Linked DNA regions of Homo sapiens: all the other regions are linked to region 1. The links come from fine-mapping of genetic effects on gene expression. A gene starts in region 1. Each other region holds a variant in brackets. All regions are shown on one strand. Distances are between the middles of the regions. Region 1 holds the start of NEK6 (NIMA related kinase 6). Region 2 has its middle 30 kb from the start of NEK6. Region 3 has its middle 19 kb from the start of NEK6.

What was found.
Region 2: its variant is fine-mapped to the expression of NEK6 in nasal epithelium (TOPMed, PIP above 0.99).
Region 3: its variant is fine-mapped to the expression of NEK6 in whole blood (TOPMed, PIP above 0.99).

Annotation. Positions count from the first base shown.
Region 1 is chr9:124,250,621-124,260,545 of GRCh38, reverse strand. It overlaps NEK6 (NIMA related kinase 6), which reads right to left and starts at 2,597. Exons shown (of 10, transcript NM_014397.6): 1 at 2,461-2,597. It overlaps LOC613206 (a long non-coding RNA gene), which reads left to right. Exons shown (of 2, transcript NR_149024.1): 2 at 1,052-1,336. RefSeq lists enhancers at 1,035-1,980, 5,726-5,815, 5,846-5,935, 5,946-6,325 and silencers at 2,018-2,387, 2,448-2,577, 8,062-8,356.
Region 2 is chr9:124,223,439-124,233,363 of GRCh38, reverse strand. No RefSeq gene overlaps it. Among named protein-coding and RNA genes, the nearest start is that of NEK6, 30 kb to the left of the region's middle. The variant G/T (reference allele first, on the strand shown) is at 2,722.
Region 3 is chr9:124,233,964-124,243,888 of GRCh38, reverse strand. No RefSeq gene overlaps it. Among named protein-coding and RNA genes, the nearest start is that of NEK6, 19 kb to the left of the region's middle. RefSeq lists enhancers at 337-853, 854-1,370, 3,936-3,985, 4,116-4,165. The variant T/A (reference allele first, on the strand shown) is at 7,015.

The DNA of each region.
Region 1 (9,925 bases):
ACCTGCCTATAATCCCAGCTACTCAGGAGGAGGCTGAGGCAGGAGGCTCACTTGAACCCAGGAGGCAGAGGGTGCAGGGAGCTGAGATTGCGCCACTGTACTCCAGCCTGGGCAACAGAGTGAGACTCTGTCTCAAAAATAAATAAATAAATAAATAAAAATAAATGGGGACCATCTATCGTGGTGCTACTTTAATGAAATTATGCAAGTCATGTCTCTGAACCTCAGTTTTATCATTTGTGAAATGGGGATAATAAACCCTATCTACGATGAGCAGAAAATGAACGGATGTGTGCTAAAGTACTCAGCACTAGGTCTGTGCACCTTAGCCAGTCAAATACCATATCCCAAGTGCAATGGAAAGAGGAAAGGCTGTGAGGCTGGGCAGGTGACTTCGGATTCTGCCCCCACCTCCTCTCAGCTGCCCCAGGACACAGGCTTGACCCCCGTGTGCCTCAGTTTCCTTGTGCACAAAACCAAAAGCATTTTCTGTCACAGAAGACCAACGGGAGATTCACACCCCCTAGAACGGCTCCCAGCACACAGCCCCTTCTGCTCCGCAAAAGGGAACTTCCTCCCCATTTCCCTCCTCTGCCCTTGTTCAAACCCACCAGAAATGCCACCAGTTAAAGCCAGGCGCTCCATTTCTGGAAACCCAAACAGCTCTAAATCCAGACCAACCTGGGTCTAAGGCCTTCAGTCTGAGACTTTATTTTGTGGAGATACAAACTACTTTTTAGTCATTTCCGAAGCAGACGGGACAGCAGAGGCTGACAAACCACAGGGACCATTTTAAATCCTGGGCCTTTTCTTCTGGGAAGTTAGGCAAGAACCTTCCCAAATGTTTGCCCGTCAGGCTCTCTGCCAGGGAGTGACTCATTCCACGGCTCCCCACAGGCATATTTTATTTGGGGGTGGGGGACGCAGCGAGGGCTTGGCCTTGATGGGGGAAGGAGAGGGGGCATTTCCAGCAAACCCAGAAGGTGTTTTCTTTTTTTCATTTTCAGGAGAAAAAAGAAAAAGAATGTGGGTCTTTTTTGCTTCCTTCCAGGTTTTGTTTGCTAAAAGAAGACGTCCAAAGTTCATTCGGTAAGCTCAAACTCGCTGAGTCCAAACTCGCTGAGTCCGGGGCAGGCGCTTCCAGACGGCTCTGCGTCCCTTTCAATGAAATTCTTCTTCCATTAACGACAGGGTTTTTAAACGTGCCTCCAAGACCTGCCTGCACGTACTGTACACCAAACTAAGGCGACATTTTCCCCCAAAAAAGGCAAGCTGAATTTGGAAAAGTCAGACCAACTAGGGAGCTCTGGAATTTCTAAAGTTTGCCTTAAAGCAATTAAGACTTTCAGCTGCAAAGATTTTCAACAGTTAGAGAGCACGCACACACACAAAAGCCTGTCAGTCAAAACTGCAAGGACAGACCTCGGAAGCTGGTGTCCCAAGCCCGCTGTGATCAATTTGTTACTGTCCTGGGATTCACACTTGGAGCCTAGGAGAGGTATAAATAAATCAAAAGATCCGTCTACTTAGCAGGGCAGGCAGAGAGGCCCCCACATACACAGGCAAGTCTAGGGTCAGCCCCCCAGGCCTGGCTGGAGAGAGACAAGAACAAAGACAGGAGAGCCTGGAGGATATTTAGGAAAACACACGTCCTCGGGTGCCCGGCCGAGGGGCCCACCACAGCCTCCGCTCGCCCAGCCTGTGTATGCAGAGAGGGTCCTGCCAGTGGCCCTGCCGCAGCCTGGCTCTAAGACCTTTGCCTCTGTCAGGCCCAGCCAGGCTCTGAGTCTGCCCTCCTGGCCCCTGGTTCACCGGATCAGGCCCAGCCCCGACCCCCAGCCCATGCCAGGCCGCTTCTCTCTCCACGGGCTCCCTGGCTCGGGGGCCATCACTGTGCAAAGGCCTGGTGGGCGCAAAGGGGGCCGGCCCCTCAACCTCAGTAATAAACACGCTCGCACGGCCCTGCACACTCGTTATACTCACACCCACACAGGCATACTTTCGCCCTTCTAGGCTCACGCATGTGCTTGCACACAAATCACTTTGGAATGCACACACGTGCACACACACACTCCCTGAGACCCGCACGTACTCCCTGCGGCGCCCGGCACACTCCTCCGCCCGTCGTCCCCACTCGGGAAGTGGGTAGCGGGGAGCCATGCCCGCGTCCCCGCACGCACTCACCCCAACAACGCCACCAGACGCTCCGGGGTGCACACGCACACCCGCCGGGGACGCGCACACCCCGGGACACGCGGACACGCCGCCCCCGCCCGCCCGGCCGCCGACACGCTCAGCCCCGCGCGGCCACACTCGCGCCCGCCTCCCGCTCTCCCCCGCGGAGCCGTGGGCGCGCGCCCGCCCTCGGCCCGGCTGGGGGTGACGGCCCCGCCGCCCGGCCCCCGCCCTTCTCCGGGCCGCGGGGCCCCACCGGCCCGGCCCCAGCCCCAGGCGACTCACCGGCGCGCGGGCGGGCTCGGCTGCCGCTGGGGGACCGGTGCGCTGGCCCGCGGGCGGCTGGAGCGGTGCGTCCCACACGAGTTTGCGGCGCAGCGGCCGCACGCCCGTCAGCTCGGTTCCGCCGCCGCCGCCACCGCCTGCGCGGGCCCGCGCGCCCGCGCGCCCGCCCCTCCCCGCCGCGGGGCCGCGCCGCCCCCAGCGCTCGTGCGCGCTGCCGCCACGCAAGCTTGAGGGGCGGGGGGCGCCCCGGCGGCGTCCTTCCTGGGCCTGGACCCCTCGACTCCGCCGAGTTCTGCGGCCGATCCGCTCGGCCGAGGAACCCCTTCCCCATTTCAGAGATGGGAAGACTGAGGCCCAGACTCACAGGGCGCAGGCCGGCGTCTCCCCATCTTCTCCGGCTCTAGACTTATGATGAGGGTCTGCAGTCAGCCAACCCTTGGACTCCTGTGCGTCTTCGGATTCCCCATCGCCTAGCATTGCTCCTACCACAGCCCTAGTCATACTGAAATTGGCACAGTAACAAGCACTTATTGTGCACCAGCTGAATGCAGGCACTGAAGTAGGCTCCAAGAGTATTCCGATGAGGGGAAGGCCCTGCCCCCTGCCCTCAAAGTGCCAGCGACTCTTCATCTGGAGCTCCCACTTCCTGTGGCCCCCGGGGGACCAGCAAGAGCCAATGTGCAGAGGTTTCTGGAAGTAGTAAAAGTCCCCACTAAAGAATGTTGAACGCCCCCTCTAGAAGTCAGAGCCTCCCTGAGACCCAAGCAGCTCAGTTCTCACTTCACCTCCTCCCCGCACCGAGAGCGGCCGCTCCTGGCTGGGCTGTTTCCACCCCTGCTGCCTCCCCTCCACATTCAAAACTGTGCTGCACCCCAGGAGGGCTGGAGCCAGGGACACTGACTGCCTGCTTGGGCGCAGCACTGTACTGGGCACAGGGTGAATGCCCGTCTGGCTTCTGTTTGCCAAATGAGTGGAAGTGCTTCAACTGGCCGTGATCTGTAATAATGACACCAACGGAGCGTCCACCACGTGTGCCAACGTTACCCTTGTGCCCATTTTACAGATGGGCTTTGAGGCTTAGAAATGAAATTTCAGGCTGGGTGCGGTGGCTCACACCTGTAATCCCAGTACTATGGGAGGCTGAGGTGGGAGGATGCCTTGAGGCTGGGAGTTTGAGGCCAGCCTGGGCAATATAGCAAAACCCCATGTCTACAGAAAAATGTAAGAATTAGCTGGGTGTGGTAGTGCCTGCCTGCAGTCCCAGCTACTCGGGACGCTGAGGCGGGAGGGTCTCTTGAGCATAGGAGTTAGCAGCTGCAGTGAGCTATGATCGCACCACTGCACTCCAACCTGGACAACAACAATAAAAAGCAAATTCTTTTGTTCAAAGTCACCCAGATGGTAAGTGGTTGAGCTGGAAAGTGCACGGCAGATTGTCTAATTCCAGTGCCTGTGTGGCCAATCACTAGGCAGCCCTGCCTCAGGAACAGCATAGCCCTGGGCTTCTGGAACAAGAGGGCAGACGAGGCAGCAGCTGGCCCACAGGAGCGGGCCTGGTCCCAGCTCTTGTGGATGAAAATGCAGACATCACAAACCAATGGGGAGGAAATGGATTGTTCTGCAAATTGTTTAGCCGTTTAGCTGGAGATCTGTTTACAGCCTTGCCTCCCATGATATACACCACAATAAATGTCAGACAGATTGAAAAGTTAAATAGAAGAAATAAACACTGCAACAAATAATAGAAAGAAATCGAAGTTCTGAGACAGCGTATTGCAGTGTTACTAGAGGATTTGTGATACTGGCCATATTCATGCAGCAAACATTAGTTCAGTCATTGGTTCACCCGACACATCTATGAGCACCTTCCATGGGCCAGGTACTTTTCTAGGCACTGGGATAAAGGAGTGAACAAAATATGGCCCTTTCTTGGGGCTTCAGTCAAGGGGGAGGGATGGGGTGGGAGGAAGACACTGAATATCTGCCATTTCAAGGATAAGAAGTTTGGGCCGGGCGCGGTGGCTCACGCCTGTAATCCCAGCACTTTGGGAGGCCGACGCAGGCGGATCACAAGGTCAGGAGATCGAGACCATCCTGGATAACACGGTGAAACCCTGTCTCTACTAAAAATACAAAAAAATAGCCGGGCATGGTGGCAGGCGCCTGTAGTCCCAGCTACTTGGGAGGCTGAGGCAGGAGAATGGCGTGAACCCGGGAGGCGAAGTTTGCAGTGAGCCGAGATCGCGCCACTACACTCCAGCCTCAGTGACAGAGCGAGACTCTGTCTCCAAAAAAAAAAAAAAAAGAAGTTTGGTGGAGAAATAACTCGGAAGGGTAGGAGGACCCAGGGGTGCTTTTTTATAGGGGGTGCTGGAAGAAGGCCTTTCTGATGAGGTGACATCTGAGCAGAGGCCTGAATGAGGGAGTGGGAGAAGTCAGTAGGGGCCCACTGTGTGGAGGGCAGGTCCCATGTTCTGGCAGCTATTCAGTTAAGCTACAGAGCAAGAACCAGAAACTCCCTTTTGAAGGAAACTTTGAGAGCCGCACCAGGCCACTGGGAGGAAAGGACTGCCCCCACCCCCAACACACAATATCTATGTAAGACTTTACTGCTTGCAAAGCCCTTCCCCAGCTTCACAGAACCCGTATGACAGATACTTGTGATGTCCTCATTTTCCAGTTAGGAAACCGAGGCTCAGAGAGGTCAAGCAATCTGTCCCAGGTCACACAGCCAATGATAATCAACAGAGGTAGGTCTGGCTGCAGGCAGGCTGAGTGTTAGGGGAATAAAGAAGCCTTGTCCTGGGATACAGGAGTGAACAAAAATCTAGCTCTGACTCTCTTGGGGCTTCAGCCAAGGTGGGAGAGTGGGATGGGAGGAAGACACTGTGAATGTCTGGCATTTCAAAGATAAGAAGTTTGGTGGAGACCAGGCGCAGTGGCTCACCCTGTAATCCCAGCACTTTGGGAGGCCGAGGTGGTGGATCACCTGAGGTCAGGACTTTAAGACCAGCCTGGCCAACATGGCGAAACCCCATCTCTACTAAAAATAAAAAAATTAGCTGGGCATGGTGGCACGTGCCTATAATCCCAGCTGCTCGGGAGGCTGAGGCTGGAGAATTGCTTGACCCCAGGAGGCTGAGGTTGCAGCGAACTGAGATCATGTCACTGCATTCCAGCCTGGACAACAGAGCAAGACTCTGTTTCAAAAAAAAAAAAAAAAAGTTTGATGGAGAAATAAAGCAGGGATAGGTAGGAGGACCCAGGAGTGCTTTTGCATTGGGGGTCCCCCTCCCCCTTGGATGGGAGCAGGGTAGGGGAGGCCCATGCACCCCATTTTCCTGGCCTTCCTCCTCCTCCATCCCTCATGGCCACTTCTTTCCCTCTGTCCTGGGCCCTGTGCAGATGGTCCCAGCTCCTGGTGACACTATGGGGCAAATATCAGGGTTAGCCTGCTCAGAGATTCTTGAATTCCCTGCAGTACTCTGATACACTGACGAGGGCACAGTAGAGTGATAAGGTACAATGCAAGCTGAATCCCACTCAACTTTTGTTTTTAACTCAAAGGAGTTTTTAGGGAGTCCCAAAATGAGTCATCGTGAAGCAGTGCTTTGCAAAATGACACCCAGAATTAGGATGAGCGTCTCCCTGCACACGTTGCCTCACACTTCTGCCCACCGAGGCGTTGTTCAACTGGTCTGGGAGAAAGTCTGTCTCCGTTCACCCCCAAAGAGTTTCAGGATTCAGTATGTGTTGTTTCATTATTTCTCTGCACGAAGGGAAGAGAAACTACCGCTTGCCGGGCACCTTCTCTGCATCTGGCTCTGTAAGAGACAGTTAATTCTTATAGCATCCCTTGAGATAGGGGTCATGATTTATGTTTTATAGATGAAGAAACTGAGGCTCAGAAAATAGCCAGGATTTGAATCCAGGTTAACTCAAGTCCTTTATTGTTGTTAGTATTGGGGGAGGGGGTAATGGGGGAGAGAGGAGAGGCAAGAAGAACTTAGAATCAGGCCATGTTCCTTTGAAGTTCCTTTGTTACAAAATATCTTCTTGCCATCTTCCCGGTAATGGGATTTTTTGTAGGGGGTGAGTTCCAATTTTCCCAGAAGGATTCATTCGCTCTTGTCATCCGGGTGCGATTATTGACAGCAACCCCTTTCCCTCTGCAAGTGTCTTGCTTTGGATGATCAACTTTAGGGTCACCTTGGGTGTCTGCAAAGGCCACTGCGTTGGGGGATTCATTTTTTACATTATACAAAATGGGGGTGTCTTGTCTGCTGGGCTCTTCGCCACATACTGATGTCTGGGTGTCCCACCAAGAACTTCCAGGAGAGTTTAAGCAGTTAAGTCACATTTTTAGGAGCAGCAAACCCTGCTGGCTGCAGAAGGAGTTGGGACCCTCTCCACCTCCTCCCCAGCCCTGCCACCACTCCCTGTGTGACCCCGGGCCACTTCCTGCCTAGCACAATGTGGGGATGGGTCTCCAAGAGTCCTGTCAACCTTGACCTTCTAAGATTTCCTGTTACTTGATGACCCGGGGGAATTTCGGTCAGGATAGGGATGTAGGAGTCATCACATCATCATATGGCTCACTTTATAAAGTAGCTGGCTCATTTTTTGTTATTTAACTTAAAAAATGTTTAATTTGTTGCTTGAATAGATAATACTTGCCCACAGTTCAAAATTCAAAAGGCACAGAAGGGGACAAAGTGAAAAGTGTCCTTTCTACCCCTACCTCCCAGCCACCTGGTTCTTATCCCTGGAGGGAGCCAACGTTGCCGAATATATGCTGTCCTAGACAGTGTGTTTTGTGTGGGTGTGTATATATGTATGCACGTATATATGGTCGTGTGTATGTGAATGTATATGTATTTCTTCTTATTTTTTGCTCATATAATAGCATACAATCTACACTATTGTGTATCTTATGTTTTCTTCACTTCTTGGAGACCATTTCCTGTTGGCTCCAGAAAAACTGCTTCCTTTTATATGACTGCATAGTATTCCAAACGATTTGCATTTAATTCACATAGAGGCTGGGCGAGGTGGCTCACGCCTGTAATCCCAGCACGTTGAGAGGCCAGGGTGGGTGGATCACCTGAGGTCAGGAGTTCAAGACCAGCCTGGCCAACATAGTGAAACCTTGTCTCTACTAAAAATACAAAAATTAGCTGGGGGTGGTGGCGGGCAGCTGTAATCGCAGCTACTCGGGAGGCTGAGACAGAAGAATCGCTTGAACCCAGGAGGCAGAGGTTGCAGTGAGCCCGAGACTGCACCATTGCACTCCAGCCTGGGCGACAGAGTGAGAGTCTGTCTCACACACACACACAAAAATTCCACATACAGCAAGCATCTGCTCTGTTTAATCCGCATAGAGCAAACACTCTGTGTACTGTTCTAAGTATTGTGGGAGAGAACAGAAGTTTCAGCCATGGCCCCTGCCCTCAAGATTTTATGGTCTGGTTGGGGACAGGAACATTGGAGAGGAAGAGAAGAGTACTCTCTCCACGGGTCCCCATGCCTGTATATGAGGTTAGCTTTGGAGCTAATTTTTAAAACTCTCTGCTCCAGGCATCTGTAGAGTTGTTTTAAGAGTCCAGACATAGGTTCTTTTGAGACTTGAAAACTCAGTCTGCCTCTTCTCTGCAGTTCAAGTTCCTGCCATCCATTTCCCCACTGTGGGCCTCAGTTTCCTCATCTGTCAAAGGGGGGCAGGCAGCCTCTCTTGCAGGATTGGGGTAGTCGCCTGAGATTGTACTCCTGAAAATGCTCAGTGAAGAGTTGGAGGCTGTGCTCCAAGGCTAGAGGATCTGGGAAGAATGAGGTGGGGCTTGGAGGAATACTTTAAGTGCAGTGTGTCATCGGCTCTTCCTGCCGCAGGGAAGCGTCGGCTCTTCCTGCCGCAGGGAAGCATTTTGTCTTTCATGCGTTGCTGATCTTGTGACAGGCCTGCTAACTGGTTATCTCCTCCTGCCTTTGGCAGTGACTGCTGCCAACTCTGAGTCCTCGCCCGACACGGTTGGAGACCCCACTCCCCAGGTGGTTTCTGGAATGTGGAAAAAAAAGAAGTTATCAAGGATTATCATTCCCACCCTCACTTTACAGATGGGACTTGCTCAAGGCCACACAGCCATCAAGAGGCAGAAATGTACTCTCTGATTTCCCACCTCCCCGCACCTCCCTGAACTTCCCTCTACCACCCGCTCTAATATCTGCTGTTTCAACTAGCAGACTCAAATCCTACGGCCTGCAGGGAGCACCATGAACTGCATATGAACTGCATTTCCTGTCTGTTCCCTTACCTGATACTCTCAACTGCACTTTGAGGTAGAGATTGTTGCCCATTGTACAGATGAGGATACAGACTCAGAGACCACGAATACTAAAATCACAAAGGAGTTGGTGCGATGTCAGTCGCCCAAAGAAACTGTCAAAATCATTGTGCTCCTCAGGAAGAGAGTAGGAGTTTCTGGCTGCTGAGAGGCAACAGACATGGCAATGGGGTATTGGGGGAATGTGATTTTGGCCTTTGAAGGTGTTTTGCAAGCTCACAGTACACTGGGACTCTATCCCCGCTTGCTTTCTGGCACCTGTTCTCTCCTGATGCTGAGTTGAATAGGCCGATCTGTTGCTGGCTTCGTCTCTCTCCTCCCATGAAGCAGGAGTGTTGATGGATATGCCTTGGCTTCCAGCAGCTGCCCAGAGCCTGGCACAGGAAAGACCTAGGATTCATGGTGTGACCAGTGAGCCATATGATGGTGTGATGTTTCTTGCATCCCAATTTTTACTGAAATTCCCCAGGGTCATCGGGTAACAGGAAATCTTAGAAGGTCAAGGTTGACAGGACTCTTGGAGACCCATCCCCACATTGTGCTAGGCAGGAAGTGGCCCGGGGTCACACAGGGAGTGGTGGCAGGGCTGGGGAGGAGGTGGAGAGGGTCCCAACTCCTTCTGCAGCCAGCAGGGTTTGCTGCTCCTAAAAATGTGACTTAACTGCTTAAACTCTCCTGGAAGTTCTTGGCGGGACACCCAGACATCAGTATGTGGCAAAGAGCCCAGCAGACAAGACACCCCCATTTTGTATAATGTAAAAAATGAATCCCCCAACGCAGTGGCCTTTGCAGACACCCAAGGTGACCCTAAAGTTGATCATCCAAAGCAAGACACTTGCAGAGGGAAAGGGGTTGCTGTCAATAATCGCACCTGGATGACAAGAGCGAATGAATCCTTCTGGGAAAACTGGAACTCTCTCCCAACAAAGAATCACCTGTGCCTGCAGGATGGTCCTGGGTGATGCCTACTGTCCTGGCATAATTAATAATAGTACCCCCTGGCTGGGTGCGGTGGCTCACACCTGTAATCCCAGGACTTTGGGAGGCCAAGTCAGGTGGATCACCTGAGGTTAGGAGTTCAAGACCAGCCTGGCCAACAAGGTGAAACCCCGTCTCTACTAAAAATA
Region 2 (9,925 bases), 27 kb after region 1:
CATAGGTAAACATGTGTCATGGGGGTTTGTTGTACAGGTTATTTCATCACCCAGCTATGAAGCCCAGTACCCAATAGTTATCTTTTCCGCTTCCCTTTGTTTCTTCTTGAGAACTTTGCTAGTTTGTGTCTTTCAAGGAATATGCCCACTTCATCTAAGTTGTCAAATTTGTGGTCATAACTTTGGGCACAATACTTCCTTATTATCTTTTTAATGGTCACAGGATGTGTAGGGATGCCCTCTCTTTCTTTCTTTTTTTTTTTTTTTTTTTTTTTTTTTGAGACAAGGTCTTGCTCTGTCACCCAGGCTGGAGTGTAATGGCGCTATCATAGCTCACTGCAGCCTTGACCTCCTAGACTCAAGGGATTCTCCCACCTCAGCCTCCCAAGTAGCTAAGACTACAAACATGAGCCACCACACCCAGCGAATTTTTTTACTTTTTGTAGAGACAGGGTCTCGCTGTGTTGCCCAGGCTGGTTTTGAATTCCTGGCTTTAAGCAATCCTCCTGCCTCAGCCTCCCAAAGTGTCAGGATTACAGGCAGAGCCACTGCACCCAGGCTTTCATTTTTCTTGTTGGTAATTTGTGTCTTTTTTTTTTTCTTTGAGATGGAGTCTTGCTCTGTCGCCCAGGCTGGAGTGCAGTGGCACTGTCTCGGCTCACTGCAAACTCCACCTCCTGGGTTCAAGCAATTCTCCTGCCTCAGCCTCCCGAGTAGCTGGGACTTCAGGCACACGCCACCACATCTGGCTAATTTTTTGTATTTTTAGTAGAGACGGGGTTTCACTACATTAGACAGGATGGTCTCCATCTCCTCCCCTCGTGATCCTCCCACCTCGGCCTCCCAAAGTGCTGGGATTACAGGCATGAGCCACTGCACCTGGCCCGTGACTTTCTCTTTTCTACTGATTGAAGATGAAGTTTATCAATGTTGTTGATGTTTTCAAAGAGGCAGCTTGTGGTTTCATTTATTTTCTCTCTTGTTTTTCTGTTTTCTAGTCATTGATTTCTACTCTTATCTTATTATTTCTTTCTTTCTACCTGCTTTGGGTTTAATTTGCTCTTCTTTATCTAGTTCCTAAAGGTGGAAGCTTAGCAAATGTATTTATTTTGGGACTTTCTTCCTTTTGAATAAAGCCATTTAATGTTATAACTTTCCCTTTATTGTATTGCTTTATCTGTATCACATAGGCTTAGATATGTTACATTTTCATTGTTATTCAGCTCAAAATATTTTCTAGTTTTCTTTGTGATTTCTTTCTATATATATATATATATATATATATATATATATATATATATATATATACTTTTTTTTTTTTGAGACTGAGTCTTGATCTGTCAATCAGGCTGGAATGCATTGGCACGATCTTGGCTCACTGCAACCTCCGCTTCCTGGGTTCAAGCAATTCTTGTGCCTCAGCCTCCCCAGTAGCTGGGATTACAGGCATGTGCCATCACACCTGGCTAATTTTTGTATTTTTTGTAGAGACAGGGTTTCACCAGGTGGGCCAGGCTGATCTCGAACTCCTGACATTAAGCGATCTGCCTGCCTCGGCCTCCCAAAGTGCTGGGATTACAGGCATGAGCCACCGCACCTGGCTTTCTTTCTATATATTCTTTGTTGATGTATACAGGCATACTAAAAGTTTTTTAAAATCCACAGGTGAAAAGGATGCATAACAACTTCTAGATGGGTCTTATTGCTGGGAGTGAAGGGTAGATGGAAATGGGATAAGAAAAGCGGTAGATATTAACAATGCTCACCACCATGTCAGTTCTCTTCTGAGCACATGAGAGGATTATACTTCACTTCCCCTTCGAAGCTGGACATGGACACATGACTTGCTTTAGCCAATGAAATGTGAGGAGAACTGACACATGCCGCTTCCAAATGGAAACATCTAAGAGCCAGCACCTGAGTCTTCTTGCTCCCTTCCTTACCTGGTGAATCTTGAAGCCTTTTGCTGAGATCACAGCATCATAAATAGTGGAGCATCCCTCAGACTGGGTTCCTAAGAGACTACAATGAACATAGCCCAATGTAGTCAACCCTCACTGGATCGAGAATGCGATAGAAGCAGACCTTTGTTGTTTAAAGCAACTGAAATTTGGGGTTTGTTTGTTACTACAGCATAACCTAGCCTTTCCTGGCTAACATGGGGACCTTTGATTATATTTGTAAGTTTTTTGTTTGTTTGTTTGTTTGTTTGTTTTTTGAGACAGAGTCTCGCTCTGTTGCCCACGCTGGAGTGCAGTGGCGTGATCTTGGCTCACTGCAACCTCTGCCTCCTGGTTCAAGCAATTCTCCTGCCTCAGCCTCTTGAGTAGCTAGGATTACAGGCACATGCCACCACACCCAGCTAATTTTTGCCTTTTTAGTAGAGACGGGATTTTGCCATGTTGGTCAGGCTGGTCTCGAACTCCTGACCTCTTGATTTGCCCACCTCGGCCTCCCAAAGTGCCGTGGTATGAGCCACCGCGCCCAGCCAGTTTTTATTTTTTTACGAGCCTAAAGTTTCATTTTTTAACAGGGGTAGCGGGTACATGAGTATTTGTCATATAATTTTCTACACCTCCCGTATGTTTTAAGTAACTGTTTAAAAAAATTTATTTGTATATTTTTTGAAGACAGAATCTCTCTCTGTCACCCAGGCTGGAGTGCCATGACCTGATCACCACTCACTGCAACCTCCGCCTCCCAGGATCAAGCGATTATGGT[G/T]CCTTAGCCTCCCAAATAGCTGGGATTACAGGTGCACACCACCATGCCTGGCTAATTTTTGTATTTTTCATAAAGATAGGGTTTTGCAATGTTGGCCAGGCTGGTCTCAAACTCTTGGCCTTAAGTGATCCTCTTACCTCGGCCTACCAAAGTGCTGGGATTACAGACGTGAGCCACTGAGCCTGGTCTGTTTTAAGTAACGTTTAAAGGAAAAACAACATTAGAGGAGAGGGAGAAGAGAAGAAGGAGGAGAAGGCACCTGGGGAGGTGGGTCCTTTTTTCTATTCCCCAAGTCGTTTCTCCATCTATCCTCTGGGTTTGGGAAGTCAGTGGGGAAAGGTTTGACTGTTTCTCCAGCCAGATAATCATCTATGAGCAGTGGCCCCTCACCCTCACTCTGCTTGTCACCATCTGGTACATTACATATTTAGTGTATGGTTATTGTCTCTCTCCCCTTGAGAAGAGGGACTTTATTTTATAACCCCAATGCCTAGAACAATGCCTGGCACACAGAAGTCACTCAACACCTGCTTTTTTTTTTTTTTTTCTTTTTTTTTGAGATGGAGTCTCGCTCTGTCCAGGCTGGAGTGCAGTGGCCCAATCTAGGCTCACTGCAACCTCCACCTCCCAGGTTCAAGCAATTCTCTGCCTCAGCCTTCTGAGTAGCTGGGATTACAGGCGCCCGCCACCACGCGTGGCTAATTTTTATATTTTTAGTAGAGTTGGGGTTTCACCATCTTGGCCAGGCTTGTCTTGAATGCCTGACCTTGTGATCCACCCACCTCGGCCTCCCAAAGTGCTGGGATTACACGCATGAGCCACCATGACCGGCCAATACCTGCTTATTAAATGAGCACGTGCAAAAGATCGCCTCCCTCACCCATGTCTGCCTAGGGAGGACAGTGACCACGTTCTGTCCCTATTCCATGTTCCTTCTCACTTGCCTTTCCCCCAGAGTGAACACCCAGTGGAACTGATGAAAGTGTAAGCAGCTCTTTACTCAAAGGTCCAGATATTTGGCTAGGCATGGTGGCTCATGCCTGTAATCCAGCACTTTGGGAGGCCGAGGTGGGTGGATCACCTGAGGTCAGAAGTTAGACCAGCCTGGCCAACATGGTGAAACCTCGTCTCTACTAAAAATACAAAAATTAGTTGGGTGTGGTGGTGGGCCCCTTTAATCCCAGCTACTTGGGAGGCTGAGGCAGGAGAATCGCTTGAACCCAGCAGGGGGCAGAGGTTGCAGTGAGCCAAGATCATGCCATTGCACTCCAGCCTGGATGACAGAGCAGATTCATCTACCAAAAAAAAAAGTCCAGATATTTGTTCCAACACCATGTTTCTGTGTTTTGTGTGTGCATATGCATGTGTGAGTCTGTCCGTCTGGGGCTGGGATGAGGGGACTAGGGGCTGTGCCCCTCATGCAGCCATTTCCTTCTACTCTATTCCCTGCCCAGGTAGGAGTCTGGTTAAGTGCACCCCGAGAAGCATGGAGAGACCCCAACTCCCCATCGGGGCCACCCTTCAGCCTCCGGGAGGGGCCTGGAACTCGGCTTTCTCCAGGAGATTTGGGGAACATGTTACCGGGGTCCTTCAGCGGCCTCTCATCCACTTCTTGGCTGCAGAAATTCCCTGGCCACCTGGGCACGGAGACACTCTGGCTCCACCAGCCCACGCAGAAGCCTGAACTCATGTAATTAGACATAATGACACATGGCGGGAGCTTCCAGAATCTCACAATCTAATGACACACCCACCTCCCAACCCACCTCAGGGGCCAGCAGAGCTCCTAATTAGGTCTGGCGCCAGCAGGTGGGAGATCCAAGGGTTGGGGGAGCAAGGAGAGAATCCTGGCCTTGGGGTTTGTCAACCTGTGTGCCAAGTCCAGTTTGATTACTTTTTGACTATGAGGCGCTGGGCAAGTCAATTCACTTCTTCAAGCCTCCATTTTCTCATCTGTAAAATGGGGTTTTGTATTTACACCACAAAGTGCTGTTGTGAGGAGTGTGAGTTCCCTCCTGCTGGGAGGCTGTCAGTGGGTGGGTCTGGGGGAGACTGGCCTGCCATGCCCAAGGCCAGGGCCTGTGTCCTGGGGTGGGACCTCTTTCAGGTGTAGGGGAAGCTGCCACACCTTCAAAGGCCGATTGGACAAAAGGCAGTTCTCCAAAACTCATTGAAGGACCACTGCCTCATATTACCGAATTGACTGGTTTTTCAAAAACTTGTTTAAGAAATATTCTTTTTGGCTGGCATGGTGGCTCACTCCTGTAATCCCAGCACTTTGGGAGGCCGAGGAGGGTGATTCACCTGAGGTCAGGAGTTCGAGATCAGCTTGGCCAACATGGCGAACAAAACCCCATCTCTATGGGTGTGGTGGCACACACCTCTAATCCCAGCTACTCAGGAGGCTGAGGCAGGAGAATCACTTGAACCCGGGAGGCGGAGGTTGCAGTGAGCCGAGACTGCGCCATTGCACTCCAGCCTGGGTGACAAGAGTGAAACTGTGTCTCAAAAAAAAAAAAAAGAAAAATTTTAAAATTATGTTTAATGTACATTCTTCCAATGGCTATATTCCATTTTAAGGACTATTTAATTTGTCCAAAGTTCATAATACATTTGCTCTTCTAGTGCTCCTCCTCCTCTTCTTCTTCTTCTTCTTCTTCTTCTTCTTCTTCTTCTTCTTCTTCTTCTCCTTCTCCTTCTCCTCCTCCTCCTCCTCCTCCTCCTTCTTCTTTTAGATGGAGTCTCGCTCTGTCACCAGACTGGAGTGCAGTGGCACGATCTCAGCTCACTGCAACCTCTGCCTCCTGGGTTCAAGTGATTCTCCTGCCTTAGCTTCCTGAGTAGCTGGAACTACGGGCATGTGCCACCACATCCAGCTAATTTTTGTATTTTTAGTAGAGACAGGGTTTTACCATGTTAGCCAGGATAGTCTCAATCTCTTGACCTCGGGATCCGCCCACCTCAGGCTCCCAAAGTGCTGGGATTATAGGCATGAGCCACTGTACCCAGTCTATTCTTCTTAAATAATATCCTATGAATATGTTTTTCACAGTATCACATGGGAACTTTAGCTTTTAGACTGATTGTTTTTAAAAACCTCTGAAAAAAAGTAATTTTCTGTCTTATCAGAACTTTAGCATCTGAAGGATCCTTTGAAGATTTTGTTAAATGGTCAACTCAACCAATTATCCAAATTTACTGCTTATCTCAAAATGTATTTCTCTTTTTTTTTTTGAGACTGAGTCTTGTTCTGCCCCACCGGCTGGGGTGCAGTGGCATGATCTCGGCTCACTGCAACGTCTGCCTCCTGGGCTCAAGTGATTCTCCTGCCTCAGCCTCCTGAGTAGCTGGGACTATAGGAGTGTGCCCCCACGCACGGCTAATTTTTGTATTTTTGGTAGATATGGGGTTTCACCGTGTTGGCCAGGCTGGTCTCGAACTCCTGACCGCAAGTGATCCACCCACCTCGGCCCCCCAAAGTGCTGGGATTACAGGCATGAGCCACTGTGCCTGGCCTAAACATGTATTTCTTTTAATTATATTTTTATATTTTGATTTCACTTTCAAAAAATTTTACATGCATTTTGTTCTGCAAGACTTAACAATGAAAAACAGCTGTCTCCTGTCTAATCCATCTTTGCTCCCAGTTCCCAACCATCAGAGGTAACTGCTTTTTAACAAGAAACAAGTTTCTTTTTTATTTGCCTTTATGCTTCCACTGTTATCACATGTCTATACCGTTATTTCTGGACTTTCAGTTTTATGTATAATCTACTCTCTTCTTACTTTGGAAGATTAGAATTTGCTTCCCATACCACGCTGCCCCTACTTCCCCTGGTACCATCTTCCTTATATGATCATCTCATCTCATAATTTTTGGTTAGATAAATATTGGGGGTTTATTTTGTGGCCATGTGAACAGTGTTGATAGCCCAGCAATGTAGAGTACTGTGATTGCATTTATTCTCTTGTGCAGCTTTCTGTTTTTCCTAGAATTGTTCATTTTCTGTCTATTTATTTATTTAGAGATAGGCTCAAGCTATATTGCCCAGGCTGAACTGGAACTCCCGGGCTCCAGTGCTAAGCTAATATCCTGTTCTTCACTCCATTTACATCCCTAGTTTTAACCTGGTTCCATCGATGTTTCTTACCTGAAATAATAATTATGATCATATTTGACAAAGGTGGTTTTCCTTCTTTCTGTATGATTTGACATTCTACTGTCAGGAAAAGCTTTCTCTTCTGTCCGGTTACTTATTCGTTTTTTTGTTTATAGCAGTTGGAGTCAGGGGTTTCTATTTTATTCAGTGGGTTATCATTCATTGCTATCATTATTAATTTTGATTTTTCAATTACACCAGATTTGGTGTGGCCCCATCCAGCTGGCCCCTGTGTCCCTTTGACATGTCCACACTATGCTTTGAATGCTTAGTGACTTTTTGCCACAACAAGGTGTTCCAGGTTCATCTTGTTCTTCCTCTCTCCCAGCCAGGACTCAGCCTTCCTCCAAATGGCATTTTGAAAACAAGATCTTGGCACTGGGTATGTTCATTGCTACCAGAGCATTGCTGCTCCCATACCTTCTTGGTGAACAGAGCTGAAAATACACACACACACACACACATCAAATATGCATATATGTATACACATATGCATGCAGGTGCATATACATGTATATATATAGACACACCTTTCTGTCTATATTCTCTCTCTCTCCACATAAACACAGATTCTCACCATGTGTTCTCACTGAGAGCTCCAACTCCAGCCCAACACTATGGGCTTCTTCAGTTTCCTCCTTTTTTTTTTTTTCTGAGACGGATTCTTACTCTGTCACCCAGGCTGGAGTGCAGTGGTGTGATCTCGACTTACTGTAACCTCTGCCTCCTGGGTTCAAGTGATTCTCCTGCCTCAGCCTCCTGAGTATCTGGGATTATAGGCACACGCCACCACGCATGGCTAATTTTTGTATTTTTTAGTAGAGATCAGGTTTCACCACGCTGGACAGGCTGGTCTTGAACTCCTGACGTCAAGTGATCCGCCCGCCTCGGCTTCCCAAAGTGCTTGGATTACAGGTGTGAGCCATTGCACCTGGCTTTTTTTTTGTTGTTGTTGTTTTGTTTTTTTTGAGACAGAGTCTCACTCTTGTTGCCTAGGCTGGAGTACAGTGTCACAATCTCGGCTCACTGCAACCTCTGCCTCCCGGGTTCAAGCAATTCTTCTTCCTCAGCCTCCTGTGTAGCTGGGACTACAGGTGCACACCACCATGTCTGGCTAATTTTTGTATTTTTTAGTAGAGACGGTGTTTCACCATGTTGGCCAGGCTGGTCTTGAACTCCTGACCTCAGGTGGTCCGCCTGCCTCCGCCTCCCAAAGTGCTGAGATTACTCGCGTGAGCCACCGCACCCAGCTGGTTTCCTCCTTTCTGCATCTGTGCCTCCCTGCCTCATCAAGGAGAAACCTGAATCCTCTTGTCCATGCTAAGCTATACCTCTGCTCTGCCCCGGTGCATACCCATCTTTGATTGCAGCAGGCTGCCGCCCAGGTCCAGCCTCACAAGGGCCACTGTGACTGTCATCCTCGAGCCTCATGATTTTGACTGGATGCACTGAGAAAGGTAGGCAGGCAGGAGGAAGAAAGGAAAGAAGGGAGAGATACAGAAAGGCAGCGAAGGGGAGAGGGAAAAGACAGGCAGGCATGGGATGGGTTTTTAAAGCTTTAGAAGATTTCTTGGATTTTCAGGAATGTTCAGTTTGTCTCTACCCCATGTCCCTGATGCTGCCACTGGAGGGGAACAGAATAGAGATCTAAGCCCAGTCTGGGCTGCAGGTCCCAGAGGTGAGAGGGATCTGAAGGCCCCAGATCCTGACCCCCCGTAGCCATGATGGCCTTGCTAATTCATTTCATGCACACAGTGGGAACTTTTACAAATTAAAACAAAATGAAAAAAAGCTCACTGGGGTGGCTCATGCCTGTAGTCCTAGCACTTCAGGAGGCCAAGGTGAGCAGATCGCTTGAGACCAGGGGTTTGAGACCAGCCTGGGCAACATGGCGAAACCCCATCTCTACAAAACATACAAAAATTAGCCGGGTGTGGTGGTGCATGCCTGTGGTCCCGGCTACCTGGGAGACTGAGGCAGGAGGATGGGTGGAGTCCGGGAAGTTGAGGCTGCAGTGAGTTGAGATTGCACCACTGCATTCCAGCCTGGGTGACAAGAGCAAGGCCCTGTCTCAAAAATAAATAAATAAATAAAATGTTTTAAGTCGGGATAGATTTGTTAAGCTCAATGATCTGGTGATATGGCACAGTGACCCTTTGACTAACTGACTTAGCCACGGTAGGTGTGGAAAGGGAAAGTGGTCTCTACTCACGGGCTCTGGGGTCCCTTCCTTTTGCACCCACGGTAGCTCTGCTCATTTGCATTAGTACTGTCTGGCTTTGGATTATATTTCTTTTGATAAAGGGTTTGAAAGAAAACTGAGCTGGGCGCGGTAGCTCACACCTGTAATCCCAGCACTTTGAGGGGCCGAGGCGGGCAGATCACCTGAGGTCAGGAGTTTGAGACCAGACCGGCTAACATGGTGAAACCCTGCCTCTACTAAAAATATGAAAAAATTAGCTGGGTGTGGTGGCACGTGCCTATAATCCCAGCTACTCAGGAAGCTGAGGCAGGAGAATCGCTTGAACCCAGGAGGTAGAGGTTGCAGTGAGCTAAGATCACGCCACTGCACTCGAGCCTGGGCCACAGAGTGAGACTCCATCACAAAAAAAAAGAAAAGAAAAGAAAGGAAACTGAGCCTGAGTTCCAGTCCTCCTGGGCCTCCTTGCTGGGTGACCCTGGGCAAGCCTTTCCTTCCCTGAGCTTCAGTTTCCTATCTGGGAAAGGACAGGTTGGATGCTGAGTTCTGTGCATCTCAGTGTCAGGTGTGTTGCACACATAGCTGGGGACCAGCCACCAGTGCCCAGGGAGGGCCACCAGTTCCCCAGGCAGGGGAGGGAGGAACCACTTTCCCCACCCTCTTCCAGAGAAACAGGTCACTGGCTGGGCTTGGGCCTGCAGCCAAGGGGAACTCAGAGACAATAAGCCCAAGTCACCCAGCTGGCAGGTTGTGCAATTTCCACCAGCGCCTGCAAACAAGATGTTGGCCCCTGAACTTTGGACTCTGGGCAGCCTTCTCCCCACCCCTCAGACCTAAACCACCC
Region 3 (9,925 bases), 17 kb after region 1:
GCCAGGATTCTTTTTTTTTTTTTTTTTTTGAGACGGAGTCTTGCTCTGTCGCCCAGGCCGGAGTGCAATGGCACGATCTTGGCTCATTGCAACCTCCGCCTCCCGGGTTCAAGGGATTCTCCTGCCTCAGCCTCCTGAGTAGCTGGGATTACAGACGCCCGCCATCACTCCCAGCTAATTTTGTATTTTTAGTAGAGACAGGGTTTCACCATGTTGGCCAGGCTGGTCTCAAACTCCCTACCTCAGGTGATCAGGGCCTGAGAGGGGGATAGATAGGACCAGTGGTATGCTAGAGCTGGGGTACATTGGCTGGCAGGAGCTGATTATTAAATAAGAGCTGCTTATTAAATATTTGGGAGTTGCAAGGCAGTTGTTGGGAGCCATTACTTAATCCTAGTTCACCTCTCTGTTTTTGGTTCTGCTAGTAGTCTGCCCTATTGTTCTAGAAGCCTAAAGGGACAGTAAAGGGTCCCAGTATGAAAACCTTTGTACCTGGTGTATGTGACAAAAGATCTTCCACCTTTACAAACTATCGTGCCATCTTTCCTTTTCCATCTCCCTAAGTGGGTTTGGCAAGAGCCAGTGCTTTTTGCTCCCTGGTCTAGAAGTCCCATAAGCTGAAAGGGGAGGGGGAGGCCTGCGGTTTCTCTTTTCAGCAAAGGCAGAAGTCAAGCCCCTCACTCTCCCCCTCACCGTCTGGGCCCTTCTCCCTCTGGCCTGCACCGGCTGGTTGGTCATCTCAGGTTTCTGGAAGCCTGTGTTCCCAGAGGAGGCATTAAAGTTGGAGGAATGCAGGCCCTGTGAGTGACGCGTTAAGGAGGCTGTGCAGAGAAGCAGTCTGGGGGAGAACCCCCCCCAACTCCGCCAGCTGCGTCCCAGCCCTCACCGGAGAGGAAGAGAAAGGAAGCGGAAAGGAAACTGATCCAGCAGGCTCTCAGAGGACTTCCTGCATTCGTGTGTGGGAGGGGTGGGAGGCAGGAGGGCTTAGACCATCTGGAGGAGTATGAAGGCAGCGGTTCCTCTGGGGGCTTGAAGCAACCGTGGACCAGGGTCCCAGAGCAAAGGCGCTTGCTGGTTAAGATGGCAGGGGATGAACGTTTACTAAGCAGCTACTGCCTTCTAGGCATCGGAAAAGCGCCTTTACTTTCCTAACCCAACTCTAAGAGTGCCTTCCTGCTCCCAGCCGAAGACCAGTCTCTGCAGGAAGTTATAACCAAGAAAAAAGTGAAGCAGCCAACCAGCGTGCAGAGGCATAAGGTTACAAAACGTATCCAGCCCCAATCCAGCTCCCAAACTGCTGCAAAGCAAAGCTGCTCTTTCCTGAAGTTCACCTGGGACCCAGAAGAGGGGAGCGAATCGGTACCTCCCGCAGAAAAGCCTCCCAAAGCCTGCTTGGGCACCACACCCTCTCTCCAAAGATTGCGCCTCCTGGCACCTGCTCACATCCCTCCTCAATCGTGTCCCGCTTCCGCCTCTCCATTTCAATTTCTGAATCTCCACTCATCACCAGGGGCATCATAAACTCTGGTTTCCTTAGGACAGCCCAGGTTTATGGCTGTTTATTACTAACGGTGCCCCCTTTCATGCTCAAAGTGTCCTGGGAGAACAATCAATGATACAGCCTTCCTCCTCACTCACCACTGACCTGCAGCTTCTGCAAAAGTCCGGCTGCTGAGAGATTCTGCAAGCAGAGGGCACCTCATAGGAGGTGAGGGCGGAAGCAAGGCTCTCTACCACCTCCTTTTACTATTTTGTCTCCAGTCCCCAGAGTTTTTTCTTTTTCTTTTCTTTCTTTTTTATTTTTTTTTATTTTTTATTTTCGAGAGGCGTTTCACTCTTGTCACACAGGCTGAAGTGCAATGGCACGATCTCGGCTCACTGCAGCCTCCGCCTCCTGGGTTCAAGTGATTCTCCTGGTTCAGCCTCCTGAGTAGCTGAGATTACAGACATGCACCACCATGCCCAGCTAATTTTTGTATTTTTAGTAGAGACGGGGTTTCGCCGTGTTGCCCACGCTGGTCTTGGACTCCTGACCTCAGGTGATCCACCCACCTCGGCCTCCCAAAGTGCTGGGATTACAGGCGCGAGTCACTGTGCCCAGCTGCCCCCCCCCACCAGAGTTTTTCATTTATTCCATTCAACGCTAATCTCACCAATCAATTCCTTGTTTTGTAGATGGGGAAATAAAGGCCCAGAGCTTAGCACTTGGTCCAAGTCAAACACCCAGTCCATTTCCAAAGCAGAGATTCAAACTCAGCTCTGCCTGAATCTGAAGCCCTCACATTCTCCATGATGCCAGGTCAGGGAGGCTGGCAGAACAGGATCAGCCTGGGACATCTTCCATTTCCAAGGAAGCAATCAACAGGGTCCCCATGCCCAGAGGGGTCTGTGCCTTGCTCAAGGTCACAGCTCATCAGCAGCAGAGCTGGTGCTAGAACTTGACCCTTAAAACATCCCTGAGTTTTTCCTGAGCTAACAGGAGGCCTCAGTGCCACTCTAGGGGGAGGACTCAAAGCCAGGGAAGCTCAGGGAAGCTCAGGTCACCAGTGTCTCCACCTCCCACTGATTTGATCCCACTCATACATCTGAGCATTGGCCTCAGTTTCCCCACTCAAAAGGCTCTCTAGAGCCCCTTGGCTGAGCCTCTCTTCCTGACCCACCTTGCCAGCCCCTCTCCCAAGAGAATGGAGCCTGAGCCTGGACCCCTAGTAAGAGCTCTGCCCCATGTAGATGTCGTGGACCTGGGAGAGGAGGCGTGTCCAGACCCTGAAAACTCTCACTGCAGTGCCTGTTCAACTGGGTCACCAGTGTGGAGTGCCACATCAGAGAAGTCCTAACCGTGTCTCCCAAATGTAGTGGCATTCGAGACCCTCTCTGCTCTCATGCCCCACCTTCCCCCAACACATCTTATGCTCCAGCCGTGGTTTTTCCTGTCACCAGGATTGAGCACGTAGTGCTCCCTTTGCCTGGGGTGCCCTTTCTTCCCACTTGTCGAAAGAACTCTTATTCATCCGCCAGCACCCCAATCAATGCCCCTTCCCAGGGCATTCATCATCAGCTGGTAGACACTGGTGGGTGCTGTGGATTGTTTACAGCCAGTGTCCTTTCTGATTGGTCAGTGACTGTGACAAACAGGTTATTAAAGATTTAAACTCTCGCCCCCAGTCTCTGTCCCTGTGGAGTCTTCCCTGACCCCAGGCAGGATCCTCCTTCCCTTTTGGGGCCCCTGTGTGTCCCTTTGCTGCAGCCCTATCCCACGTGTGGCTCTGCCTGCTTAGGCTCTGTCCTCCTCCCTAGACTTTGTGCTCCGGAAGGGCAGGGACCATAACTGGTCCATCATGGTAGCTCCCCAGGGCCAAGCCAGTGCCTAGGCCAGAGCACTAGCACTTTAGGCACAGGTTTTACTCCTTGGAAGGGGGCTTCTAGAAGCTAGAGGAATGCTGAGAAACCTCCTAACAGCTCCCACTCCCTGATGAGAGGTGTTTCCTGTGGACTGGCCCCTTCCATAGGATGATGGTTGATCCCACTTTACAGATGGAGAAACCAAGGTGCAGAGAAGTGAGGGACATTGGCCAAGGTCACACAGCAAGTAAGGGATGGAACCAGGATTTGAACCCAGGTGTGAATCTGAAGTTCCTCCTCTTCCCATGCAGTCTCTTTGAATCCCAGGCAGCTATTTTTGGGCAAGGAAGATCAGTCTTAGCTCAGGGGGCTTTCCCAGGGCCTCCAGTACCCCTGCTCAGGATAAGGATAGGGGAACGATGGCCACTGATTTCCTCCATCAACTCACAGGGGCCCAGGCCGGGAAGGCTGCACAGGATGGACTGACCCTTTTCTCTGATCCCCACTCCTCAGGCCTCTAAGCCAGTCTTGGCCTTTGGCTGTCCTTGGTGTAAATTCCAGATAGGGATACCAGGAAGCAGTTCTGCAAAAGATGTGGGACTTTCCAAGACAAACCAAAAAGAGAAGACAGGAATGTCCCTCCCACAGGGTCACATTAGCACTGCCCACTGAGAACATCCTCTCTAGCCCTGTTACCCCCCACATGCCTGGCTCTTGGTTGCTCTCAGGGGGACTTCACAGTGGCTTGGTGGAGTCAGCCTCAAGACTTGAGCCATGAGATTTGGGTTCCAATCCTAGCCCCAGGGCTTGACTTGCCTGTGGCCTTGGTCAGCCACTTTACCTTGTTGGTAATTGCAGGCTTTGCCTGTGAGTGAAGGGATTGCTGGGGAAATTAAATGGAATAATAAGTACCAAGTGCCAAGTGCGTGACACAGGGTTAATGTTCCCTCCATACATGGGGATCGAGTGACACTCTAGAACATCTCTGGTCCTCCTCCCCTTCCCTGCCAATCTTGGTAACCTACAAATTCCCCAGGGAAGAATACCAAGTCTTCTTGCTTTAACGTGATCTGGTCTGACCTTCAGTCTCTGTGGGCGGGGAAAACACAGTTTCCCCTTTTCTCTGTAGTCTGGAGCCTGCCCTCTACAAGCCCACGTGGGAGGCCCTGGGCTTCTCTTAGATGAGATTATTGCGCAGGAGAAAGTCCCTGTACCCTTAAAACCATAGAAACTTGAGTCCTGCCACCTTCACCTCTATGCGGTTTGGACTCACACTTTTCAGAACTTGGTTGAGCTGCAAACCCAATCTATAAAAATTCCAATTTATTCAACACAAAGGCACACCAAAGGATTCACTGCTGGCTTCTTTTCAATAGTCAGCTCCCTTGCGTGTATTGTAAATGGGTCTCCTTTTATAGAACTTCAAATTCTGGACAACTTCTTAGATGCCTCTGTAGGGCCAACTAAGGTATAGTCTACCTGAAGTCCAGCCACATTCCAGCAGCCACCTGAGCAGACGTTTCAAATGGAAGCTTCTACCCTCAGCTCTACAGATCACAAAGCCAGCTCACACCTGGAACCACACTTGTGACTAAAGGGTTTTCTTTTAGGGTAATGAAAATGTCTTGGGGCTGGGTGCAGTGGCTCATGCCTGTAATCCCAGCACTTTAAGAGGCCAAGGCAGACACATCAGTTGAGCCCAGGAGATTGAGAGCAGCCTGGGCAACATAGTGAGGCTCCGTCTCTACAGATAATTTAAACATTAGCAGGGTGTGGTGGCACACACCTGTGGTTTCAGCTATTCAGGAAGCTGAGGTGGGAGGATTACCTGTGCCTGGGAGGTTGAGGCTGCAGTGAGCCGCGATTGCACCACTATACTCCAGCCTGAGTGACAGAGTGAGAACTTGTCTCAAAACAAAACAAAACAAAAACCAAGAAGAAAAGAAAAGAAAAAAAGAAAATATCTTTTAATTAGACAATGTTGTGCTGGTTCCACGCATTGCGAATGTACTGAAAACCACTGATTGTACACTTTAAAATGATTGAACCAGCCCAGCGCGGTGGCTCACGCCTGTAATCCGAGCACTTTGGGAGACCAAGGTGGGAGATCACAAGGTCAAGAGATTGAGATCATCCTGGTCAACATGGTGAAACCCCATCTCTATCCAAAATACAAAAAATTAGCTGGGCATGATGGAGCACTCGAGTCCCAGTTACTCGGGAGGCTGAGGCAGGAGGATCGCTTGAACCCTGGAGGCGGAGGTTGCAGTGAGCTGAGATCGCGCCATTGCACTCCAGCCTGGCGACAGAGCGAGACCCGTCTCAAACAACAACAGCAACAACAACAACATCAACAACAAAAAACAAAAACAACAACAAAACAAAAAAAATGATTGAACTGGTAAATTTTCTGTTATGTGTGTTTTACTACAAAAAAAAAAAAAAAAAGATGTAAGGATGCATCCATTCTCAGGAGCCGACCTTCACTTACATGCCCTGGGTGAGTACCTCTTTTTATTTTGGGTCCTGGATACCTCACTCGCCTTACCTAATCCTGGTCCTGGGGCCCAAGGCCTGCCCCATGGAGAACGAGAATTCTGTGTTTGCCTTGTAGCTTCTTTTGCACCCACCACTCCCCAGGAGAATCCTTTCTTTGGCCATTCAGGTTATGGGCTGATGCAGGAACATTTGAGGGGGGAAAAGGAAGAGAGAGAACTGGAAACATGAATAGCTTGGGAGCAGCCAAGAAATACTTGTTGGAAAAAAGAAAAACTATGGAGATAGGAAATGGAGAGCGGGAGAAATGTGAAGATTCACCTAGCTCAATATTTTTATTTAAAAAAAACAGCTTTATTGAGATATAATTAGCGCACAATCCACTTCATCCATTTAAAAAGTACAATTCAGTGTTTGTTTGTTGTATAGTCACAGATATGTGCAACCATCGCCACAGTCAATTTTAAGATGTTTTCGTCACCAAAAGAGAAATCATCCCTTCCCCCACCGAGCATCAAGCAACCACTAATCAACTGTCTATCTCTCTGGATTTACCCATTCTGGAAATTTCAGAAAATGGAATCAGATAATATATCTTTTGTGACTGGCTTCTTCCACTTAGCGTAATGTTTTCAAGGTTCATCTATTAACGAAATAAAAAACCTGTCAAACTATTTCCCAGTATGGTTGTACAGTTTTGCATCCCTGACAGCAATATATATTCTAGCTGCTCTACATCCTCACCAGCACTTTGTATTGTTAGTATTAAAAATGTTAGCCATTCTATAAGTGTGTAGCACTTGGTCATTGTGGCTTTATTTTGCATTTACCTAATGAATAATGATGTTGAATTTTTTTAATGCACTTATTTGCCGTCCATATGTCTTTGAAGAAGTGCCTCTTCAAAGTACTTGACTATTTTATTGTTGGTTAGTTTGTCTTCTAACGATTGAGTTATGAGTTATTTTAAAATTGTGGAGACCAGTTACTTATCAGACATTTTCTCCCAGTCTTTGGTTTGTCTTTTTATTTTCCCAACAGTGACTTTCATAAAGGAAAAGTTTTTAATTTTGAAGGCTAATTTTTCAATTTTTGACTTTTATGGTTTATGTTATTTGCATCCTGTTTAAATAATCTTTATCAAGATCACAAAGATATTTTCCTTTATTATCTCTT[T/A]GAAGGTTTATATTCTATTTAAGTCTATGATCCATTTGAAGTTCTTCATGGTGTGGGAGGTAAGGGTTGAGGTTCTTTTTTTTGGATATGGATGTCTAATTGTTTCTTCACCATTTGTTGAGAAGACTATTCTTTCTCCATTGAAATTACCTTGGTTCCTTTGTCAAAAATCAACTGACCAAATGGATATTGGTCTATTTCTGGAATCATTTCTGTTCCACTGATCCATAGGTCTAAGCTTACGCTATCACCATGCTGTCTTGCGTATAGTAGCTTTATAGTAAGTCTTGAAATAAAGTAATGTGAGTTCTCCAACTTCTTCCTTCTTTTTCAGAATTGTTTTGGCTATTCTAGGTCCTTTGCACTTCCATATATAATTTAGAAACAGCTTGTCAATATCTACCAAAAAAAAAAAAAAAAAAAAGCCTGCCAGGATTTTGATTGAAATTGCAATATCAATTAGGAAAGTACTAACATAATTCTTCAGAATTGTTAATATTTTGTTAAAGTAGTGAGTCTTCTCATCATGAACATTGTATATCTCTCCTTTTATTTAGATTTTTTTTATTTCTCTTGGTAATGATTTTCCATTTTCAATGTACAAATCCTATTTCATGATATTTGTCCCTTAACTTTTCATGTTTTTAATGCTATTGTAAGTGGTATTGGTTTTTAATTTCTTCTTCTTTTTTTTTTTTTTTTTGAGACACAGTCTTGCTCTGGCCCCCAGGCTGGAATGCAGTGGCTCAATCTTGGCTCACTGCAAGCTCCACTTCCCGGGTTCATGCCATTCTCCTGCCTCAGCCTCCCAAGTAGCTGGGACTACAGGTGCCTGCCACCACACCTGGCTAATTTTTTTAAATATTTTTAATAGAGACGGGTTTTCAACATCCGGTTTCAGCCGGATGGTCTTGATCTCCTGACCTCGTAATTCACCACCTCAGCCTCCGAAAGTGCTGGATTACAGGCGTGAGCCACCGTGCCCAGCCGATTTTTAATTTCAATGTTAAATTTTAAAATTACTGTTAAGTAGAAATACAATAGACTTTTGCATATTGGCTGTATATCTTACAACCTTGCTAAATTCACATATTTCTATTAGCTTTGTAGTATACTTTTCTATGTAGATACCATGTTCTCTACAAACACAGTTTCACTTAATCCTTTCCAATCTGCCATTTATTTACATATTTATTTATTTGCTTGTTTGTTGTATTGTACTATCTAGGACATCTAGTACAATGTTGAATAAAAGTGGCAACAGTAGAGATCTTTGCATTGTTCCCAATCTTAGTGGGAAAGCAATCTTTCATTATTAAGTATAGCGTTAGCTGTAGGTCTTATTGTAGATGTTATTTATCTGATTGTGAAATTTCCCTTCTATTTCCAGTTTGCTGAAAATTTCTTTTGTAAAAATCATGAGTAAATTTTTATCAAATGTTTTTTCTGCCTCTATTAAGATGATCATATAGTTTTTCTCTTGCCACTGCACTCCAGCCTGGGCGACAGAGCGAGATTCTGTCTCAAAAAAAAAAAAAAAAAAAAAAAAGGATGACTATATAGTTTTTCTTTTTATGTCTATTGATATGTTGAGTTACATTGATTTATTTTTGAATGTTGGACCAACCTTGCATTCCTGAGATAAACCCTACTTGGTCTTCATATATTATCCTTTCTGTACGTTACTAGATTTGATTTGCTAATGTTTTGTTAAAGATTTTTGTATCTGTATTCATTAGGGATATAGGCCTATAGCTTTCTTTTCTTGTATCTTTGTCATGCTTTAGTATCAGGGTAATTCTGAGTTCATAGAATTAGTTAGGAGTTTTGCTCTCTCCTTCTACGTTCTGGAAGAGTTTCTGTAGAATTAATATTTCTTTTAAAATAAATTTAACTAATAAAATTCACCAGTGAAGCCATCTGGGCTGGGAAATTTTTTCATGAGAAAGTTTTTACTATGAATTTCTATTCCTTAATTGATGTATAGGACTATTTGGGTTTTCTGTTTCTTCTTTTTTTATGTATATCAAAAATAGACTTTATTTGGCAATGGCGTATTTCAAGCATGAACACCATATTTTGGAAAACAATAGATTTGACACATATTTGTTACCTAATGTTTTCACAGCAGAAGGCTAGAACAAAATTTGACTTGCTTTCCACAGCTTTTAGAAATTTTTAACCGAGAATATCACTAAACAGCATGAAAGACATTTTCTTGGTGAGGCACTACTTTGCCAATCTTTTTTCACTCCTTTTTTTTTCCTTTCCATGTTTCTTTCTCAGCTTTTCTTACTATTTTTGCTTGGTTTTTAATACTTCAGCCTATTTCATAGACCTCCCAGTGACACCCTTAGGTGTTGCTTTATTTAAACAGTGTACTCAAAGCCAAACATATTATGGCTGGACACAGTGGCTCACGCCTGTCATCCTGGCACTTTGGGAGGCCGAGGAGGAAAGATCACTTGAGGTCAGGAGTTTAAGACCAGCCCGACCAACATGGTAAAACCCCATCTCTACTAAAAATACAAAAATTAGCTGGGTAGGTGTGATGTCACACACCTGTAATCCCAGCTACTCGGGATGCTGAGCCAGGAGAATCACTTGAACCCAGGAAGTGGAGGTTGCAGTGAGCCAAGATTGCTTCACTGCACTCCAGCCTGGGCCACAGAATGAAACCCTGTCTTACAAAAAAAAAAAAAAGACCGGGTGTGGTGGCTCACGCCTGTAATCCCAGCACTTTGGGAGGCTGAGGTGAGTGGATCACTTGAGGTCAGGAGCTCAAGACCAGGCTGCCCAATATGGCAAAACTCTGTCCCTTCTAAAAATACAAAAATCAGCTGGGCGTGGTGGCACACACCTGTAATCCCAGGTACTCGGGAGGCTGAGGCATGAGAATGGCTTGAACTGG